Regions from separate parts of the Homo sapiens genome. Here region 1 is linked to region 2. The links come from fine-mapping of genetic effects on gene expression. Tissue or cell type: non-classical monocytes. Region 2 holds a variant in brackets; the other region holds the start of a gene. All regions are shown on one strand. Distances are from middle to middle.

Region 1 (4,841 bases), 170 kb after region 2:
CTCGGGGGGAGCGCGTTTCGGGGACTAGCTGGACTCCGGGCTGTGCGTGGGGGCGGTGCTGTCGGCCTGGGAGTGACGCGGGACTTCCTGCCCAGCGCAACCCGGCCTGGCCCCCGAGGGTGGGGGACAGGGCGACGCCCGCGGGGACCACGCTCTGGGGCGTGCGGGGCGCAATTCACGGGGCTGGGCTGCCCCAGGGGCTGGGAGGAAGGAGGCAGGGGGGCGCCCAAGTCTCCTACCCATGGCAGCGCATCAGGGCGCGTCCCAGAGCCGGGGGTGGACGGAGGCTTGGAGGCGGAGGCTTTGGGGACCCCCAAGCCTGGGCTAGAGCAGCCTCGGCGGGCTCTAGAGGGAGGGTGGAGGGAGGGGCCCGGGCTGCAGGAGGCGGGGAGGCCTGAGCCACGGTGGTGGGGCCGCTGGGCAGGAGAGAGGGGCTGCCTGACCCTGCCGTGTGAAGGTGAGGTTGTCTTCGGGCTTGGGGGGATCGGAGGGGGCGGTTCAGGTGGAGGTGGTGGCGGGGGGCTGGGAAACCGGCAGGAGGGGCTCTATGTAGAGCTGGGGGTGGGGGTGCTGAACCACGTACAGAAGGGGGCTGAGACACCGGGGCCCTGGGCCCCGGAAATTAGAAATGGAGAAATGGAAGGCTGGGTGCTGGCGTTTCGGAAATGCATGCTCGTGGTGTTCCTCTTTATGTAAGGGAAGCTTCTGGGCCTTTTCCCTGCCTGTCGAACGTTCTGTATGTTTTTGCGGGATGTGTGAGGTGTGCTGTCTTGCTCCACTTTGAGGCACCGCCCCCACTGCGGGAGTGCTGGGGACCTGCCCCATGGGGCATCCTCGGGGCCAGCCCTGTGGCCACAGGCATCTGGGCCCTCGCTGCCCCTGGCCGGGACACACTGCCGGTCCTGTGCAGTGGCTCAAAGCCCCTCTACCGGGGGTGACCCGGTCTCTCCGGAGATGAAGTGCAGCGGGGGTCTAGGCCGGCTTCCTGGCCCCCCACCCCTCCTGGCTTTACCCCCGAGGCCACGTCCAAAGCCCCCAGCGCCCCACCCCCGCCAGCCTCCCCCTTGAGGGCCCAGTGACCTAACTGGGCCGGCAGGGTCCGAGGAAGACCAGGGTCAGCGGCGGCACGGTCCGTTCCGCGACCCCTCTCCTGTGACCCCAGGTAGGCCGCCGATCGGTTCCCGGCTGAGGTCCCGCCCCAGCGCCCGCCTCCCGGGCTCCAACCTCTTTGCTCAGCCCGGGAGGCTCGGCTGGCTGGGGCGGGCGTAACCGTGGGGCGAGGCCCGCCGGTCTTTCTGATTTCCGCGGGCGGCGTGGGCGCTGAGGCAGCCGCGGTCAGGACCTGGCCGGGAGTCGGGGCTGCTCCGTGGACCCCGCGTCTGCGCCGAAACCCCGCATGGCTTCGGGGGCCGGACCTGCGCCTCCGCCTAACTCCGGCCGCCGGAGACGCCGTGCGGACCCCAAGCCAGTGCGCGGAAGACACCGTCCTACCCTCGGCATGGCTGCCTCCCACCCGGTCACGTCGGTCCCCGCGCCCCACGCCGACGCGCAGGCGACCCGGGGACGCGGAGACGCAGACAGCTCGGGACTCAGGTTCGTGGGAGCAGCGGCCGCGCGTGGCTATGACCGTCCCGGGGGCCCGTGCTCAGGGCGTCCCCGTGAGGTTTGGGCGCCACAGTCACCGGCGGCTCTGCCCGCGCCCTGGCCACAGTGGGGACAGCCTGGCTTGGCGGGGACGCACCAGTCCCGCCGCCGACGCGGAGTTCCTACCCCGCCGTGCGAGGCAGTGGCTCCGGCCCTTCCAGCTCGGGATGGAGTCAGGGAGCCGCCCGCGCCCGAATGCAGAGGCTCCTGCGATGGCCCCGGAGTGAGTCCCCCAGAGGAGCCGGATTAGGGCTGGAGGCGGCCGAGTCCCCCGAGAGGCCCCTCCCGACATTCCCGCCCCCGCGCGCCGCTCCCCGGGTCCTCCGCGTCTCTTTCCCGGGAAAGCCTCCCTCGGTTCCTGCGCGGCCGCACAGCCTGGACGCAGCGCACGCGGGCACCGGCCTGACTCTCCCACCCCGAAGCCTGCTCCCAACCTAAGTCCGCCCTGACTCTCCCAGCCTGAAGCCTGCTCGCCCTCGGGTGTCCGGGCTGGGCACAGGCGCCAGCGTCCCCCTGGAGAGGAGAGGTCGCCCGGCACCTCCCAGGACAGGCCCAAGTGGGAGTGGGACCCTCCTACCTTCCTGCAGCCTCGGCCCGCGGGGTGGGGGGTTGGGAGAGATGAAAGGAGGTGACCGATCCCGAACCATCGCCTCTCCATTAACCAGGGCCCGCAGCCCCGCCCCTCCCCCAGACATCGAGGAGCCGGGGAGGTGTGAACGGCCTCCTTTGTGCCTCTGAATCGAAGGCAATTAGGCGCTGCTTATCTGGGCATTAGCCGTGTATGCAAACCGGGCTCCCGCCCCCTCCTCCTGGGCTTATAAACGCCGCCGCCTGGCGAGGCCCGAGGTGGATCCTGCGCCTGGCCAGCCCCGCCTGGCCTTCCCTCCGGCCCACCTGGCCGCCATGCGCCTCTCCTCCTCCCCACCTCGTGGCCCGCAGCAGCTCTCCAGCTTTGGCTCCGTGGACTGGCTCTCCCAGAGCAGCTGCTCAGGGCCGACCCACACCCCCAGGCCTGCCGACTTCTCCCTGGGGAGCCTCCCTGGCCCAGGCCAGACATCCGGCGCCCGGGAGCCCCCTCAGGCCGTCAGCATCAAGGAGGCCGCCGGGTCCTCAAATCTGCCTGCGCCGGAGAGGACCATGGCCGGTAGGTCCGGGTGGGGGGGGTCCCTTCCTTCCCAGGTGGAGATGGGAGTGGGGGAGAGGCCAGGAGCCCGGCGGCTGCACTCCCCGCGGTGCCCTGCCCACTAGGTCAGGGCCGGGGGCGTTTCCATGAGGGCCGGCGGAGGCCTTGCCGGCGCCCTCACTGGAGCGCAGCTTCCCTCGGAACCAAAGCCTTGACGGGGATTTCCTCTCCTTGAGCCCCCGGTGGGCTCCTCTGCCTCCTTTTGTCACCCCGTTCCTCAGCTGTGTCTTCGTCCCCCACCCCGGCCTGGTGCCGAGGGACCGTCCAAGGGGTCCCCGTCCGCACCTCCCTGCCCTGATTCCGGGCGCTCACTGAAAGTCTCGATGATTTGCCAAGCCCCCCGCCCCCGCCCCCCAGCACAGCCGGTGCCTGCTCAGCGTCTAGGCTCAAGCCCATTCCGGGTCACCTGGAGCACAGCTGTCTTTAAAGAGCCTGCAGGTTCGCTGCAGGGGTGGCGGTGACCCCGATGCCTGCAGAAACTCTGAAGTTCCCTCTGTGGCCGCCCAGATGCTCTGTTGTCTGCTGAGAACAAAGGTTCTCTGCGTTTGTGTTTTAGTCTTTGTGACATCATCACCACTTTTAGGTTTAAGGTAGTACTTGGTCAAAAGTGGGGTTGACATCATCTACAAGTTTTCATTTTTAAAAATTTGACTGATCCTTATGGAGTGACTTTGTACTTAAGGGAAATGAAAATTTAAATGTATTCTCCCCAGCTAGCTATCCTGCCCCACCCCAAAAAAGCCAGCCATCCCTGTCCCGCAACCCCCTTTCTGATGCCAGTCCTACAGCCCTCCCTGCCAGAAGGCATTTGCTTTTTGGGTCTACCATGTGCTTTCAGGCTAACGTTAAGACAGATTTTGTAAAATACGCTTCCTTCCGCAGAAACTCCAGCGAGCATTTTGGTCAGACTTGCATTTAATGTCGAGCTCGATTGGCCACGTTGGCCTTTCCTGGGACCCAGACCCAGCTCCACAGACCACCTCGTGGGGCCGTTTGGTGCCAGCCCCCATTCCTTAACTTAGAAATTAGGAAACAGACTTGACCACAGTGGGCCTGGGGATTAACTGAGTTGGCCTCCGCTGGCTGAGGAGACGGAGCCCGGGACAGGGATGGGTGCCCCTGGGTGGGTCGCCAGGCCTTTGCATATAATGGATTCTTACCTTACCGGCCTGGAAGGCTGTGGGAAGGGCATCCTGGGAACCGGCTTCTGGAAGGGAAGTGTGGGATGGGGCGGAACTGAGTGGACTGAGCGGAGGGCAGGCCCAAGCTGCTGTTAACATTCCCTCCCCTCTTGAGCCCCCTCTCTGAGCCCCCTTTCCGCATGTGACCTGGGAGGCGGCGGGGGTGCTGCTGGTCACTGTCAGGTGAGAAGATCTGCCCTGCCCAGCCCCCAGCATGGCTGTCTTCACCTGTTACCCGTGGGCACGAGCTTGCCCCATGGGGTGGCATGTTGAGCCAAATGCCCTTACCCTCTATGTCAGGGTTGAGTAAGGAGCCAAATACCTTGCGGGCCCCCCGTGTCCGCACAGCCTTCACCATGGAGCAGGTCCGCACCTTGGAGGGCGTCTTCCAGCACCACCAGTACCTGAGCCCTCTGGAGCGGAAGAGGCTGGCCAGGGAGATGCAGCTCTCAGAGGTCCAGGTGAGGTGGGCCGGGCAGGCTGGGGTGGGCAGGGGTGGGCAAGGGTGGGCTGGTGGCCTAGTCTCACCCCTGTTCTGATCTTGCTTTTCCTACAGATAAAAACCTGGTTTCAGAATCGCCGCATGAAACACAAACGGCAAATGCAGGACCCCCAGCTGCACAGCCCCTTCTCGGGGTCTCTCCATGCGCCCCCAGCTTTCTACTCAACGTCTTCTGGCCTTGCCAATGGCCTGCAGCTGCTGTGCCCTTGGGCACCCCTGTCCGGGCCCCAGGCTCTGATGCTGCCCCCTGGCTCCTTCTGGGGTCTCTGCCAAGTGGCACAAGAGGCCCTGGCATCTGCGGGAGCTTCCTGCTGCGGGCAGCCTCTGGCGT
Region 2 (5,845 bases):
ACACACTCGAGAAGGCGGCACACCAGCTGGGCGAACACACACACCCACTCGAGAAGGCGACGTTCCGCTGGGCGAACACACACACCCACTCGAGAAGGCGGCACTCCAGCTGGGCGAACACACACACCCACTCGAGAAGGCGACGTTCCGCTGGGCAAACACACACATCCACTCGAGAAGGCGACGTTCCGCTGGGCGAACACACACACCCACTCGAGAAGGCGGCGTTCTGCTGGGCGAACACACACACACACTCGAGAAGGCGGCACTCCAGCTGGGCGAACACACACACCCACTCGAGAAGGCGGCGTTCTGCTGGGCGAACACACACACACACTCGAGAAGGTGGCACTCCAGCTGGGCGAACACACACACCCACTCGAGAAGGCGGCGTTCTGCTGGGCGAACACGCACACACACTCGAGAAGGCGGCGTTCTGCTGGACGAACACACACACACACTCGAGAAGGTGGCACACCAGCTGGGCGAACACACACACCCACTTGAGAAGGCGACGTTCCGCTGGGTGAACACACACACCCACTCAAGAAGGCGATGTTCCACTGGGCGAACACACACACACTGGAGAAGGTGGCACTCCAGCTGGGCGAACACACACACACACTCGAGAAGGCGGCGTTCTGCTGGGTGAACACACACACCCACTCTAGAAGGTGGCGTTCCGCTGGGTGAACACACACATCCACTCGAGAAGGCGGCGTTCTGCTGGGTGAACACACACACCCACTCTAGAAGGTGGCGTTCCGCTGGGTGAACACACACATGCGCTCGAGAAGGTGGCGTTCCGCTGGGTGAACACACACACGCACTTGAGAAGGTGGCATTCCGCTGTGTGCAGGGTCCAGCGTGTGTCAAGTAGGTCAAGATGGTAGGTCAAGCTGCTTAGTGTCTAGGTTCTTAGTGATTTTCTTTCTGTTGTTACATTGTGTACCCAGCCCCACTTGCCTTTTCAACCTGTCTCCTGCCAATCTGTACCCTGACTCCCAGGCTTCAGGGACCCTCCCCTCCTCGGGCTGGCCACTCCTCTGCTCTTCCCCCTCCCAGCTGCAGCTCTGTATGTTTCCCCTGTCCACAGGGAGAGGGTCCTTGTAAAAGGGTGGGTGGGCAGGTGGGTAGATGGGAAATGGAGACATATGGGTGGGTGGGGGATGGATAGATGGGTGGGTGGGTGGGTGGGTGGATGTATGGATGGATGGATGATGGATGGATGGAGGGTGGATGAATGGATGGATGGATGGATGGATGGATGGTGGATGGATGGTGGATGGATGGTGGATGGGTGGAGGGGTAGGTGGGGGATGGATGGAGGATGGATGGATGAGTGGGTGGATGGGTGGATGGATGGATGGTGGATGGATGGTGGATGGGTGGGTGGATTGTGGATGGGTGGATGGATTGATGATGGATGGATAGATGGAGGGTGGATGGGTGGATGGGTGGATGGATGAGTTGGTGGATGGGTGGATGGATGGTGAATGGGTGGAGGGGTAGGTGGGGGATGGATGGAGGATGGATGGATGAGTGAGTGGATGGGTGGGTGGATGGGTGGATGGAGGGATGGATAGATGGTGGATGGATGGAGGGTGGACGGGTGGATGGATGAGAGGGTGGATGGATGGATGGATGGATGGGTGGATGGATGGATGGATGGATGGATGAGTGGGTGGATGAGTGGGTGGATGGGTGGGTGGATGGATGGATGGATGGATGAGTGGGTGGATGAGTGGGTGGATGGGTGGGTGGATGGATGGATGGATGGATGAGTGGGTGGATGAGTGGGTGGATGGGGGAGGGTGGATGGGTGGATAGATGGTGGATGGATGGAGGGTGGATGGGTGGATGGATGAGTGGGTGGATGGGTGGATGGTGGATGGGTGGAGGGTGGATGGGTGGATGAATGAGTGGGTGGATGGGTGGAGGGTGGAGGGGAGGAGGGGTGGAGGGGTAGGTGGGGAATGGATGGATGGATGGATGTTGGATGAATGAGTGGGTGGATGGGTGGATGGATGGATGGTGGATGGGGGAGGGTGGATGGGTGGATGGATGGGTGGGTGGATGGGGGAGGATGGATGGATGGATGGTTGGTGGATGGATGGATGGATGTTGGATGAATGAGTGGGTGGATGGGTGGATGGTGGATGGTGGATGGTGGATGGGTGGATGGATGGGTGGATGGGTGGATGGTGGATGGGGGAGGGTGGATGGGTGGATGGTTGGTGGATGGATGGATGGATGTTGGATGAATGAGTGGGTGGATGGGTGGATGGGTGGATGGTGGATGGTGGATGGTGGATGGGTGGATGGATGGGTGGATGGGTGGATGGTGGATGGGGGAGGGTGGATGGGTGGATGGTTGGTGGATGGATGGATGGATGTTGGATGAATGAGTGGGTGGATGGGTGGATGGGTGGATGGTGGATGGTGGATGGGTGGAGGGTGGATGGGTGGAGAGGTGGAGGGGTGGAGGGGTGGAGGGGTAGGTGGGGGATGGATGGATGAGTGGGTGGATGGGTGGATGGGTGGATGGTGGATGGTGGATGGGTGGAGGGTGGATGGGTGGAGAGGTGGAGGGGTGGAGGGGTGGAGGGGTAGGTGGGGGATGGATGGATGAGTGGGTGGATGGGTGGGTGCAGGGATAGGTGGGTGGTGGTTGGCAGGCATGGACAAGAAGAGGAAGAACGAACAAACAGATGGCTGGAGAATGGACAGGGCAACAGAGGGAAAGGAACACAGGATGGTTTCACCTTCAAAAAAAGAGGAAGGCTGGTTCCAAGGAGCAGCGGTC[C/T]AGCCTTAAGCATTTATTTTTCCCCGGAATTCATTATGCCTGTGAATACTGACACACGGGGCGGACATTTACGGATCCACATCATAAAGAAGTTGTTCTATAGAAATTCCAAAACTGGATGAAATATTAGGAACAAAATCATGTTTTAAGCTCCCCGCAAAGAAACATTAGCTGATAAGTAACAAAGAAGCAGAGGAGCTGGAGGAGGGTTTTCCGTTCCCTCCTCCTGGATCAGAGCTCAGGCCGGACTCTAGAGGGGGGGACTCCGCGGCAGCAGCTGGGCTCAGAAGACCGCACTGTGCAGGCGCAGACGCTGGGTTCAGACGCCAGAGCAGCTCGCTTCATGGAAACCACTGAGAAAGGGAGGAGAAAACTGTGAGAACAAATGTTTTCTCAGTAACTTTCTCTTAAATGAGGTTAAGTATCATAAATATACAAATTAGGTTAACAAAACAAATGTGTTTGGGACTTCCTCAACTACTTTGTGAAAATTATTCTGGTTTTATGTAAAGAAATGAAAGGTTTAGTGCTGTTTCTAAAAATGGCCATTACTGAATAAGGATGCAAAAGGCAGTGACAGAACAGTCCCGAAATGCCTGCGGTTCCCAGAGCCTGCAGGAGCCGGTCAGCGTGGGTGTGTGTGAAAGACAGACACACACAGACAGGCAGACGCATGGACACATGGGCACGCGGATACACAGCGGGAGGCTTTGCCCCACACTTCAGGGTGCTGTGGCCTGGTGCGGGCCAGGGGGTGGGGACTGGGCCGCTTCTCCCCGTCCTAGCTTGGGATGTGCTGCAGTGGGACCACCTGGGAGATGCTGGACCTTCCTCCTGGGACAGTGAAGAGCAGAGCTGTGAGCCCCTGCCTGCCTGCCCCACCCCCATCCCCAGCACTGTGCTGGCCACAGCAGCAGACACGTGTCATGTGTGCTAGAAAGCCTGCTCCCGGAGCCCCCTGCTCCCACCCCCAGCCGCCTTCACTCATCAAGTGCTGGCCATGACCCTGGGCCAGGCTCGCTCAGGGACAGATGGTTGGGTGGAGGGAGGCAGCGGCATCAAGCCATTGGGGCAGAGGCCAGGGGCACCCTGGTCTCCTGCACAGCCTGGCAGGTGGACACTGGACCTTCTTGGCCTTCACAAAATGGCTCCACTTGGCCCCACGACGCTGGCTGCACCTCACACCTTGGCTGGCTGTGGGTTTGCTCTGCAATGGGAGGGCTGTGCGGCTTCTTAGCCCATTGGCTGAAAGCTGGGAGAGGTTCCAGAATGTTCTGCACCAAGGGGCAGGGCACCTGTACCTGGGCAAGTATCCAGTCCAAGCATCCATGGTCACACAGACGAGAGGCCCCGCCCTCCCCTGGCCACAGCATGGCGCAGCAGAAGCCCTGAGAACTCGGCTGAGAGTGAGCCGGCGCTGGGGTGCACGAAGGGGTCTCTTTGCTCCGTGGGTTGTCAGCTCTCTGTGTCCTGGGAACAGCCACCCAGGGGTCTGCCCCACATCACCCGAAGGTGGCTGGCAAGTGCTGACCCTGTTCAGATCACGCTGGTGTGAGGTCCCCGTTGGCTGCCACCAGGACTGGCCCTGAGATGAGGGTTGGCCCCGCCATCTGCCCGGGCTCCCGGCACACCCGGTGCTCTGGGCAGCTCCAGTGCTCAGAGAAGCCTCCCCCTGGGTGTGTGGGGGCCAAATCCCGGCCTGTGGCCCCAACTGTGCAGCTGAGCCTGGGCCCTGAGTCCCAAATCTGCCATTTCCCTGAGTTCTCTGCAGCCCCTGGGGCTGTCATCACTTTATTCTTTTAATTAACTCTGCAATTACAGCCTCCTGTCTCTCATGCAGAAGCAGATTCGGGCTCTGTGGGGAGACAGGAGAGAGCTCCTCTCTGTGGATGCCGCCTCTCAAACAGCACCTGCGGCCGGCGTGGCTGGGTTTTAATTATTGCAAAACCCTTTGGTGGCTTTTCATCTGTTTCAGACCAAAACCAATAAACACATTCACTTATGTCTTGAGTGAGGCCGGCCCCAAGGGCTCCGTGTGGTCATGGCGCACAAGGACCTTTGGAGAAACCTCATCGTGCCCTTCGCTGGCCCAACCCCCGCGGATCGGCCGCCCCGGGCCTGGTTCCAGCTCCTGCCAGCTGCTGTGGGAGGCCTCAGACCCTGGGACCCACAGCTGGGAAGCTGGCGGGGAGGCCGAGGGGCCGTCAGCAGGTCTCAGGCAGGCCTCTGGGGTGCTCACACCAACCCTGTCCCATGAGTGACCTCAATGGAGCGAAGGAAGGGGTGGGAAGGCGGCCGACGTTTTTCTAGAAGCACTGGGAGATGTACTTGGCGTTCTGTTGTGTTTACAGAGGATGTCCATGTTTTCCTGGAGCAGTGTGAGGAACCTCGCCCGCCTCTGCCCAGGGCAGGCGTGGGAGGGCAGGGGGCCGTAGTGTGCAGAGCCAGGGGGCCCTGGGGTGCAGAGTCAAGGGGCCGTAGGGTGCAGAGTCAGGGGGCCGTAGGGTGCAGAGTCGGGGGCGTAGGGTGCAGAGTTAGGGGGCTGTAAGGTGCAGAGTCAGGGGGCCATAGGGTGCAGAGTCAGGGGGCATAGGGTGCAGAGTCAGGGGCCCTGGGGTGCAGAGTCGGGGGCGCAGGGTGCAGAGTCAGGGGGCATAGGGTGAAGAGTCAGGGGGCCCTGGGGTGCAGAGTCGGGGGCGCAGGGTGCAGAGTCAGGGGGCCATACTGCAGAGTCAGGGACCGTAGGGTGCAGAGACTGGGGGCCATAGGGTGCAGAGTCAGGGGGCCCGGGGGTGCAGAGTCAGGGGGCGTAGGGTGCAGAGTCAGGGGGCCCTGGGGTGCAGTCAGGGGGCATAGGGTGCAGAGTCAGGGGGCCACAGGGTGCAGAGTCAGGGGGCCCTGGGGTGCAGAGTCAGGGGGCCATGGGGTACAGAGTCGGGGGGACCTGGGTTGCAGAGTCGGGGGGCCCTGGGTTGCAGAGTCAGGGGGCAGAGGTGAAGCCACGCCCTGGGATGTTTGACCTCCCTGTGCCGAGGAGGT

What was found. PIP is the estimated chance that this variant, and not a neighbour inherited with it, causes the effect.
Region 1: it holds the start of VENTX, and the variant in region 2 is fine-mapped to the expression of VENTX in non-classical monocytes (Schmiedel 2018, PIP 0.95).

What each region holds. Positions count from the first base shown.
Region 1 is chr10:133,235,368-133,240,208 of GRCh38, forward strand. It overlaps VENTX (VENT homeobox), which reads left to right and starts at 2,488. Exons shown (of 3, transcript NM_014468.4): 1 at 2,488-2,788; 2 at 4,309-4,469; 3 at 4,565-4,841. The coding sequence starts at 2,548. RefSeq lists enhancers at 1-253, 1,463-2,066, 2,067-2,671, 2,672-3,275.
Region 2 is chr10:133,064,228-133,070,072 of GRCh38, forward strand. No RefSeq gene overlaps it. Among named protein-coding and RNA genes, the nearest start is that of ADGRA1-AS1, 20 kb to the right of the region's middle. RefSeq lists an enhancer at 1-35. The variant C/T (reference allele first, on the strand shown) is at 2,807.